Regions from separate parts of the Homo sapiens genome. Here region 2 is reported to be linked to region 1. Evidence: microRNA targets listed by miRTarBase, many of them from high-throughput screens and not tested one by one. Region 1 holds a microRNA gene; the other region holds the end of a gene's coding sequence.

Region 1 (5,070 bases):
AACGGAAGTTCCTTCTCTTAAACATGCTCACTAGGCATGTGAGTATGAGTTCTGTGTCTTTCTTGACCACCCTGTCTCTCCATGTCTGGTGCATGACAGGAGCGCCACCCCTGCTTGTTAAAGGTGGGAATGAATGAAGGATGGGGATTATAAACAGGTGTTCTTCGCTCTATGCAGAAAAGGCTCAGCCGTGGAATGCTTGCCTGGGTGCACCGCATTGACACAGCACTTGCATCCAGGTACCAGGATTCAAGAGGGGGAACAGGACTGAAGGCCCAAGCAGCCATACAGAGTATGTGTGTGTGCACGTGTGCGTGTGTGCACATGTGCTCACATGGGTTTACAGGGAAGGCTCACCGCATATAGTGTGTTCATCTGTGACTGTACAGAAAAGTAATGAAAGGATCTCTCCTATACAGAGCAGCAAGAAGGAAAGTAGCAGTAAGAAGACTTCCCTCATTTAATCCCCATCTATAAGGGAGTTAAGGAAGCTCACTGGCTTGCACGCTGAGAATGGGAGAGAGGAGAGCACAACAGGCTCCATCTCCTACCCTTTCAGTAGGTGGGGTTCTCTGCATGCAGGGCCATGTCTCTGAGTGTGTCTGGTGTACAAGGATTGGGGACATTTGAGAATTTCACTTGAGCAGAACCTGCACATGCTTGTGCATGCAGACTGGGTAACAAGGAACATATAGATCTACTTCATTCTTTTGAACAGTGGCCTATTCATCCACAACATTTATGTATAGTGTGTTTATGAGTCCCTACCAGAATGTAGGGTAGCAACCTGTCCATTTTGATCCCTGCTATATCCTTGGTGATGAACATAATACCTGCTGTCTAATAGACACTTGAGTATCTGTGGAAGGAAGAGGAGGGAGAGTTGATGTGCAAAAGCTCTGTCCTTTTAAGTGTAGACAAGGCTTCTTCCCTTGGAATTCTTGAAAAGGGACAGTGAGTCAAGGCAGTACTGGCACACAGGCTGAAAGAATGTGAGTGATGCACCAGGTCAGAGGGACCACTCTGTGAGGACATGTCTCTGTGGATGTAACCAAGTCAGGCCCTTTCTCTTGCACACAGCGTATTTATGTGTGATTGTACTGAGGTTTAGTAGATTCTCCAACATGTATCTGTACCCCACCCACCCTGTACCCCACCCACCCTCAGGACATGCAGATATAATGAATGAGAAGGAGTCCATTCTCCTCCCTGAACTGTACACTCCATGAAGGTAGGGAACCAGATATGGCTCATTCTCTTGTGGGCCAACTGCCCAGGACAGCACCTGCAATAGAGTAGGTAGGTACTCAACAAATAGTCATAGAAAGGATGGAAGGAGGAGGTAGAAGTGCTCTGTCCTATGCGAAGATGTCACTCCCCCTTGCAGAATCCTTGCCTGGGTGCACTGCATTCAGAAAGCACTCTCACCCAGGTAGCAAGGATTAGAGAGGGGGAACCAGGACAGGAGATTCCAGTACCTGTACACCTCACATGTGCATCTAACAAGAAGGCTTGCTGTTCTTGCCTAGTGCATTAACCTTGCATTGAACTAAAGTAGAGAGAAGTTGCTTCGACAAGTATCAGGCTGGGTGCAGTGGCTCACACCTATAATCCCAACACTTTGGGAGGCTAAGGCTGGTGGACTGCTTGAGCCTAGGAGTTTGAGACCAGCTTGGGCAACATAGTGAGACCCCATCTCTACAAAAAATAAACACAAATTAGCCAGGCATGGTGGCACAAGCCTGTGGTCCCAGCTATTTGAGAGGCTGAGGTGGGAGGATCGCTTGAGCCCAGGTGGTTGAGGCTGCAGTGAACTGTGATGGTGCCAGTGCACTCCAGCCTGAGCAACAGAGCAATACTCCATCAAAAAAGAAAGAAAAGAAAAGAGAGAAGAAAAGAAAGGAAAGGAAAGGAAGGAAAGAAAGAAAAGAAAGAGAAAGAAAAAGAAAAGAAGGAAGGAAGGAAAGAAGGAAAAAACAAGAAACAAGTATCAATGTGACAGCAGGAATGAGAAGACTCACACTTATGGGTGGGTTAAGGTGGGAAGAGGGTAGATAAGAAGTTCCTATGTGGCCCACTCACCCTCAGTATATGCAGGGGCAATGAGTGGTGACAAAGTCCATTCTCCTCTCAGGCTATAATATCCAGGAAGGCAGGGGCGAAGTCTGCCTTGTTCATTTCTCTGTGTCCAATGCCCATCATGGTGCCCAATACATATTATTTGTGGAAGGAAAGAATGAATGAGGGTCAGAGAGCAGGCAGGCAAGCAGCAAGCAGCTGAGAGGTGACATACAGATCTTCTGTTCTCCACGCAGAGGGGGCTCACCCTCTCAGAATCCTTGCCCGGGTGCATTGCATTCAGAAAGCACTCTCACCCAGGGACAAAGGATTAGAGAGGAAGAGCAGAGCAGAAGACTCAGGCACCTGCACCCTGCATGTATATCTCCATATATATTTGACTTTCATGGTCCCATTCCTGCAAAGTATCTCTGTGTGCATTTGCTAAGACAGATGCCTCTCCTCAGGGATAGCATATGTATTCATCCCCCTGCACAAGGCCACATGGACATGCCCTCTCAGACAAAACCTCAGACTAGAATGAAAGATATGAGTGGCATCTTTTTCAGATCACACTTGAGGGTCTGCAGGTGCTGGATGTATTTGGGGCCTAGCAAGGAGGTTGGGACAAACTGTATGTGGGCACACATGTACATGCACATGTTGGAAGATGGTACAGAAAATTGGGATACTTCATTCTCTTCTGTTTCTCTGGTAAACTATAAGCTCACTGAGAGCAAAGACTGGCTGTGCAAGTCTCATCACCCAATGTGTGTTTCCCCATTACAGTATCTGACACATAGTAAGCTGGGAGTAAACAGAAAGCTCATGCTCTCAAAGAGGTGTAAGCTTGTCCAGGGCAATGATGAAGTTCATTCTCCCACAGGTGCCCTCTACAGAGCCCAGGGACCTTAGCTGTCTTATTTACCGTTGTATCTCCACCACCCAGTGCAGGATCTGGCACCGCATAGCAAACACAAACATGTGAAAGAAGGGGACAGGTTGTTGGTCCTTCTACATGTAGACAAGGCTCAGCCTCTTTGAATCCTTGAATAGGTGTGTTGCACTGAAATAGCACTCACACCTAGGTTCCAAGGATTCAAGAGGGGGAGCAGACAAGAAGGCTCTGACACCTGCCCTTTTTGTGTGTTTGTATGTGTGCATGTGTAGCTATAACCAAGTCTCACTCTCATGTATATACAGTGTCATTTACTAGGGACTTTACAGAAAGGCAGAGAATCTTTTCTCCTGCAGAGTTCCATGTGAGATCAGAGAAGATTCATGCTTTTGTGTATGTTTGTGGGTGACAGTGGTAATGAGAAGTCCACTCTGTGGCCCACCCACTCTCAGGGCATGTAGGTGTAATGGATGATGAGGAATTCCATTCTTCTTCCTCAACTGTAGCTCCATGAGGGTAGGGACCAAGCATGTCTTGTTAGCAACTGTATGCTCATTACTCAACTTAGTATCATATACAGAAAAGGTGGTCAATAAATACTTGTGGAATGGATGATAGGAGGACAGAAAGACGCTCTGTCCTACACGAAGATGAAGCTCTCGCTCTCAGAATCCTTGCCCAGGTGCATTGCATTCAGACAGCACTCTCACCCAGGTAGCAAGGATTAGAGAGGGGGAGCAGAACACAAAGCCCTGTGAATGTTCAGTGAGAGGGCTCATTCTTCTTCACACAAGGTACTTACTTGTCATGATATAGAAGTAAAGAGAACAGTTCTTGAGCTTTGCATTAAAGATGTCTAGTTAAACACACATTTTGTCTGTTCTCTCAGATAGTAACAACAAAAAAGTATAAACCTATAAAGAGACTGGGAGGAGAGAGGAGTGTGAAAGGGAGGAAAGAGAGAATGAATATAACGCCAAAGCTCATGATCCCGCAAATGCTTTGTGTGACTATGCAACAAGAAGGCAGTACAGTTTAGCACAGTTGTTCTCTAACATGCACCAGAATCATCTGAAGACCTGGGTAATATACAGGTTACAGAGGTTTCTGACTTGGTGAGTCTGGGGTGAGACCCAAGAATTTGCATTTCTAACAAGTTCTCAGGTGATACTGATGCTACTGGTCCAGGGACTACACTGGGAGAATCACTAATGTAGTGGAAAAACCAGGCACTTTGGTATCTACGAACCTTGGTTCAAATGCACGCTCTACCACATATTAGCCTAGAGAATCGACCTGATTTTCCCAAGGTCAAGTTAAACACTTTTGAAGAATGAGGACAATTTAAAGCCTACCTCTTAAATGGTGTCAAGAAAATGAAATAAAGTATAGTACCTGGCACACAGCCGTCAATATTTTTACCTCTTACTCTCTATTTTTATGTATATATGTGTTTGAATGAATGTGCATTTTTAAGGGGGATGGTGAAACTCCTGCATGCAAGGGACAGGTGAGAGAGAAGAGGTCCGAGTATCTGTGAGTGTGAGTGCCTGCACAAGGGGATACACAGATTCATCCTCTTAAATTCCTCACGTGTGAGTTGATGAGGTTCTCCTTCAATCTCCCTAGGTCAACAAAGTTCACGCCCCTTCACATAAGGGATATGAAGGAAAACATCAGAAGTTCCACTCTCTCTGTGTGTGTGTGTGTGTGTGTGTGTGTGTGTGTGACAGAGAGAGAGAGAGAGAGAGAGAGAGAGAGAGAGAGAGAGAAAGAGAGAGAGAGAGAGACAGAAAATGAGTAAAGATGGGGGCATCTGGCCCTGTGAGTATAATCAAAAAGGCTCCTGTCTCTCCTGTCCCTGTATGCTCACATGTCTGCATATGCTGGGCACCCAGCCACATGTGGGCCTCCCTTGCATGCTCATTCTCCTGTATGCCTTGCTTGTGCACATGTGCATATACGAGTATTTGTGTATCTGTGATTGTGAGAGAGAACATTAACAAGGAAGTGCATCTTCATTCAACAGCTACCTAAGGGAAGAATGCCGAGACAGCTCACTGCCCTTTCTGGGAGGGCAAAGAGAGTAGAGTTAGGGCAGGAAGGAACCACCC
Region 2 (5,059 bases), not on the chromosome of region 1:
TAGTGCTGGGATTGGAGATTAATAAGGCAGCCTGTGTCCTCAGGGAGCTTCCAGTTTTACTAAGTGCCCACATACCTATCTAGTGATTAATTCACTTGGTAAACATTTACCAAGGGCCTACTGAAACTGCAGGGGAGCAAGCCTCAGCTCCTAAGCTTAGGGATCCCCTCATCTACAGGGAAACTGAGGTGTAAGGGGGTCGGCCTGGTAAAAACAGGGAGAGAAGAATCCAGGGCAGTGGACCAGCGGCCACAGCAGGCTCAGCCGACAGTCTGCCAAGAGGCGTGGGGTGTCTGTGTGCGTGCACGTGGGTGTAGATTGTGGGCACAGGATGGCCAGGGTGGTATCCAGCCACCTCCCTCCCTTCCCCTTTTGTTACCCCCTCTCAGGCCTCTACTGCAGCGGCTGGGTGAAGAGAGGACCTACAGGTGTCATAGCCACAACCATGACTGACAGCTTCCTCACCGGCCAGATGCTGCTGCAGGACCTGAAGGCTGGGTTGCTCCCCTCTGGCCCCAGGCCTGGCTACGCAGCCATCCAGGCCCTGCTCAGCAGCCGAGGTCTGGGCCCCGATGCTGAGGTCCTGGGAGGTGGGGTGGGTGGTCCTTCTCTGGGCCTCACTCTTTGGGAGGGGGCTGTTCTGGGAGGGGTGAAGGAGGAGGTGTTGACAATCTCCCCTCTGCTTCAGGGGTCCGGCCAGTCTCTTTCTCAGACTGGGAGAAGCTGGATGCCGAGGAGGTGGCCCGGGGCCAGGGCACGGGGAAGCCCAGGGAGAAGCTGGTGGATCCTCAGGAGATGCTGCGCCTCCTGGGCCACTGAGCCCAGCCCCAGCCCCGGCCCCCAGCAGGGAAGGGATGAGTGTTGGGAGGGGAAGGGCTGGGTCCGTCTGAGTGGGACTTTGCACCTCTGCTGATCCCGGCCGGCCCTGGCTTGGAGGCTTGGCTGCTCTTCCAGCGTCTCTCCTCCCTCCTGGGGAAGGTCGCCCTTGCGCGCAAGGTTTTAGCTTTCAGCAACTGAGGTAACCTTAGGGACAGGTGGAGGTGTGGGCCGATCTAACCCCTTACCCATCTCTCTACTGCTGGACTGTGGAGGGTCACCAGGTTGGGAACATGCTGGAAATAAAACAGCTGCAACCAAGAGCCATGGTTGATGGGGGACTTTTTTTGGAAGGGTTGGGGTCGGGGGTCACCTTCTGGCCGTAGCTCCCCTACCATCACCAGGTGGCGCTGCAGAGACGGCTCCCTGCTCAGGGGCCTCATTGGGGGCTTGATGGGGCTCGGCAGCCAGGCCTGGCATAGCCACCCTTCCTTTCTCCGCTCGGCCCTGCTGTGGCTGCGGGTTGCCTGTCTTCTGTCCACACTAGGGCTGCCCGGGACCGGGACCGGGACCACCCCTCCCTGGGGAGCCCTCAGTACAATCAAAACAGAAAAGAAATGGGAGCGGGGGACTGAGAAGCAGCTTGTCCCCTGTACCTCTGGGTGCCCCAGGCGAGTCTAGCCTGGGGCCCATTCTTTGGCTCTCAAAGCCTTCCTGCTTCCGTTTCCAGTCAGACACACTGGCCTTTAAAAATAGTGCCTCAGTCTCCCTAGGGCTTTGCAGTGTCCAGAGAGTGGTCACTCCCTTTTATGGCAGCCCTCAAGATGCTGCCTCGCTGTATAACCTGAGGGGTCCTCGAAATTGGCCCAAGGTCACACACTCGTGAGCTGCGGGCTCAAACCCAGGCTCCGGGCAGGCTGGTGTGTCCTCCGAGGCGCACTTGCCCCGAGTGTCAGGTCTGGGGACGCGGTTCCGGAGAGGGGAGAGGGGCCCGGGAATGCGGCGGGAGGGGCCTCGAGGGGCAGCGGGCCGGGCCGGGCCGGGGCGGAGGTGGCGGGCCCCGGCGGGGCGGGCCCTCGCGGGCGGCGGTGAGAGCTCCCGCACAGTCGGCTGCGAGCTCTGGGAGCAGGAGGCGCGGTGCGCAGCCCAGCCCGGGACGGAGCCGGGCGCCGTGCGAGCTTCGGGAGGGTCGCGGGGCGCAGGGGCGGGTCGGGGCCAGCGGACCAGGCCGCGCCACCCGCCCCCGCCCCCGCCCCGCCGCGCCCGGGCTCCGGCGCCCGCGGAGCTGAGACTGAGCGCGCCAGCCCTCCGGGGCCGAGGCTCTGGGACAGACACCGCGAGGGAGGCGGCCGGCGCGGGCTCTCGTCGCGGGCGCAGCGCCCCTTCCCCTCGGTAAGTGGCGAGCGGCGGGCGAGGGGCACCAACTTCGCCGCCAACTTGGGGCTGGGTTCCCGCGGCGCGCGAGCAAGGACGGCGGAGACAGAGGCGGGACACCCGGGGGGTTGGACCCACGCAGGACTCTCGGGGCTCAAGGAGGGGGCGGCTGGAGGACCCGGACCCTCAAGAACCTGGCCTTGGGTTTTGACCCGGGCGGCCGGAGAGAAGGCGAAGAAGAGGCCGAGCAGACAGGCGCGCGGCGGACGCGAGAGAAGGACGCGGGCGAAGCGTCCAAGACGTTCGTCCCCAGGGTCGCCGAGCCCTCCTCCTCCTTCGCTTGGCGCGGCAGCACCGCGGGACCAGGGGAGTCTGGGCTGCCGCGGACCCAAACTGTTGCTGCTGGAAGCCGCCGGGGCGGAGAGCGGGGAACAGGGCCGGGAGTGGGGGCCGGGGCTGGGATCCACCAGAGCGAGGGGTTGGAAAGGAGTCGAGAAGGTGAAAGGGGGCTGTGCGGCTCCCCAGCCCAGTGCCCCAGTTTCCCTAGGTCTGCTGGGCACCTGCTGCGCACTCGCCTCGGCGCCCAGACCCCTTCCCCCGCCGCGAGTCCCGCTTCTTCCCCTTCCAGCTCTGCCCCATCTCCTTTGCCCCAGCCTAGCTCTCTCCTTCCTGCGACCTGGGAGAATCGGAGTGGGCTTCCAGAGTAGTGGCATCTTGCAGATGCTGGCCCGTGCCCGGCTCCCGGGCTTCCAGAGCGCAAAGGGAAGGGTAGGCAGAGAGGGCACTGGGCGAGCAAGACCTGGCGCTGGGCCCTGGCTGCGCACCAGCCGCCTGCGCCGGTCTCTGGGGGCTTCGCCCAGGATCCCCGACGGCGGGGAGGGGAAGCCCCGAGTCTCCTGTTTCCTGCCTACGCGGGCAGGGCGGGGACACGCGGAGCAAAGGCACCCGGCAACCTGAACCCCCAGGTGCGTCCCGCGACCCTGCAAGGAGCTGCTGGGTGAGCAAGACGGGAATTCCCGCCAGGCCCTGATGCCCACCCCATTCGTCCACTCGGTTTCCCAGCCCTGGTCGTCCAAGGGGACTTCTGGCTCGGTCCCCCAGCCCTCGGATGGTGGCGTTATCTTAGTTCAGTCCCTGACCCCGGGCCACAGGAAAATCGAGGAAAGACACTTATTTGGGGAGGGTACCATTCCGCTGGCTGTATTTCAGAGCCCGTCCAGGTCTTGGCGGTGCTAGTGACTTTGAGCCTGTTTCTAAACTCCCGAAGAATAAGAGCGTGCCAGGGGCAGGTAGGCAGGTCCGGGACACCTGGGTTCGCCCAGGGCCCCCGGGCGGGCCTGGGATGGTACTGGGGCCGCCTGCCAGGCTGGCTTGGTCCCCCCACTGCGGGACTCGGGGTCACGACCCAGCTTGGGGGAGTGGGGGTGGGGGCCCCGGAGCCGCGGACGCCGGCGGGGGGCAGCGTGGGGCGGGGGGCGCCGGGTGCGTGGTGCTCAGCTTGGCCGCCAGGAGGCGTGGCGCGGGTCCCCGCCCGGAGCCGCCGCCGCCGCCGCCGCCGCCGCATCGCGAGTGTCCTTGAGCCGCGGGTGACGGTGGCTCTCGCTGCTCGCGCCCCCTCCTCCCGCGGGGGGAGCCTGATGCCACGTTCCCTATGAATTATTTATCGCCGGCCTAAAAATACCCCGAACTTCACAGCCCGAGTGTAAGAGATTGCTGCGGAGGGGAGGGGGCGGGGCGTCCCGGTGGCCAGGGGGAGTCCGGGCGGGGTCCGCGGAGACGGGGGCCGTAGCCTTGGAGGAGCAAGAACTCCGTGCCCCCAGCAGTGGGGCAAGCTAGAACGGCGGTCCTCTCCCCTGGCGCCTGGGTTCGGGTTTTGGCTGGGCAAAAGGGAGGGAGGGAAACCCGACGGCAAAGGAGGGGCGGCTCACCGGAAGGGCAGGGGGTCCGGGGGTTCTGCTGGTGGGTGGGGAGGACTCCTGCGACAGAGTTTCCTAGCCTGGGAGAGGGAGAGCCATCGGTATCTCAGATGTGAGCGGGTATGAGTGCGGGAGTGTGCATGTGTGTGCAGGTCCGTGCCAGGGGGTCTGGCTGAGCTGTGAGGACCCGGGAAGGAGAAGGCCCCCAGCCTGGGAAGGTGCTCAGACCCTTCTAGATGCTGCTGTGTCCTGCAGGACTGACCACTGCCATCCTCTCTGGGGCTCTTTGGGGATCTCTGTGTTTGTCAAACATTAGTTTAAGGGCTGTTTGTGGAAGGGGTGAGACCCTGAGTGGGTGGGTGGGCAGAGGTCTCTGAGACAATGTGTCTGCCCTCAAGGAGCCCGCAGTCCAGTGTGGGGCAGGGTGTTAATGAGTGCACACACACCTGCCGCAGGGCAGAATGGAGGGGTGGAGGGGACCACTACACAGAGCTCCCCACCCAGGAGGGGAAGCCAGGGCAGGGGGAAGAAGGGCAGGTGCCCCAGCCTGGCCGCAGTCCCTGCGCCTAGAGCCTGAGGCATCAAGGCAGGTGCCTGTGGGAGAGGGATTTCAGCTGGGCCCTGAAGGAGAGTAGACTTCTGTTGGGATGAGGACATTCCAGCCTGGGGGATGCTGGAACGAGGCCTGGAGATGAGGGCAGAATGGGGCTGTTTGGCCAGCAGACTGGCAGAGCTGTGGGTTCCAGGGATGGGAGGACGGTTGGTTGCGGTCAGGGTGCAGAGGGCTCTGTCTATGGGACTAAGCTGTCTGGACTTCATTTGTGGGCACCAGGGTGTAGCTGTCCTGTGTGAGGAGGGAGCAGTGGCTGGAGGAAGGCTTCAGCAGTGCAGTGGGGCTGGCGGGGGTGGGTAGGTGGGAGGTGGGGAGGGGGAGGCAAGGGAGGAGATTGTGG

Evidence for each region. The annotated mature microRNA hsa-miR-500a-3p reads AUGCACCUGGGCAAGGAUUCUG and lies in region 1 at 3,623-3,644, opposite strand. An mRNA with a match to its seed (bases 2 to 7 or 8) in the 3' UTR can be bound and repressed. Matches are read on the target gene's strand: a 7mer-m8 pairs with bases 2 to 8, a 7mer-A1 pairs with bases 2 to 7 and ends in A, and an 8mer does both.
Region 2: the mRNA of FDXR is a reported target of hsa-miR-500a-3p. The part of its 3' UTR that is shown has no 7-base or 8-base seed match.

Annotation. Positions count from the first base shown.
Region 1 is chrX:50,007,056-50,012,125 of GRCh38, reverse strand. It overlaps MIR500A (microRNA 500a), which reads right to left and starts at 3,695; the gene lies at 3,612-3,695. The region is part of intron 3 of CLCN5 (chloride voltage-gated channel 5); the gene reads right to left. MIR362 (microRNA 362) reads right to left here and starts at 3,162; the gene lies at 3,098-3,162. It overlaps MIR501 (microRNA 501), which reads right to left and starts at 2,404; the gene lies at 2,321-2,404. It also overlaps MIR500B.
Region 2 is chr17:74,858,577-74,863,635 of GRCh38, reverse strand. It overlaps FDXR (ferredoxin reductase), which reads left to right. Exons shown (of 12, transcript NM_024417.5): 11 at 390-560; 12 at 689-1,139. The coding sequence ends at 819. GRIN2C (glutamate ionotropic receptor NMDA type subunit 2C) reads left to right here and starts at 3,751. Exons shown (of 13, transcript NM_000835.6): 1 at 3,751-3,892. RefSeq lists an enhancer at 2,226-2,924.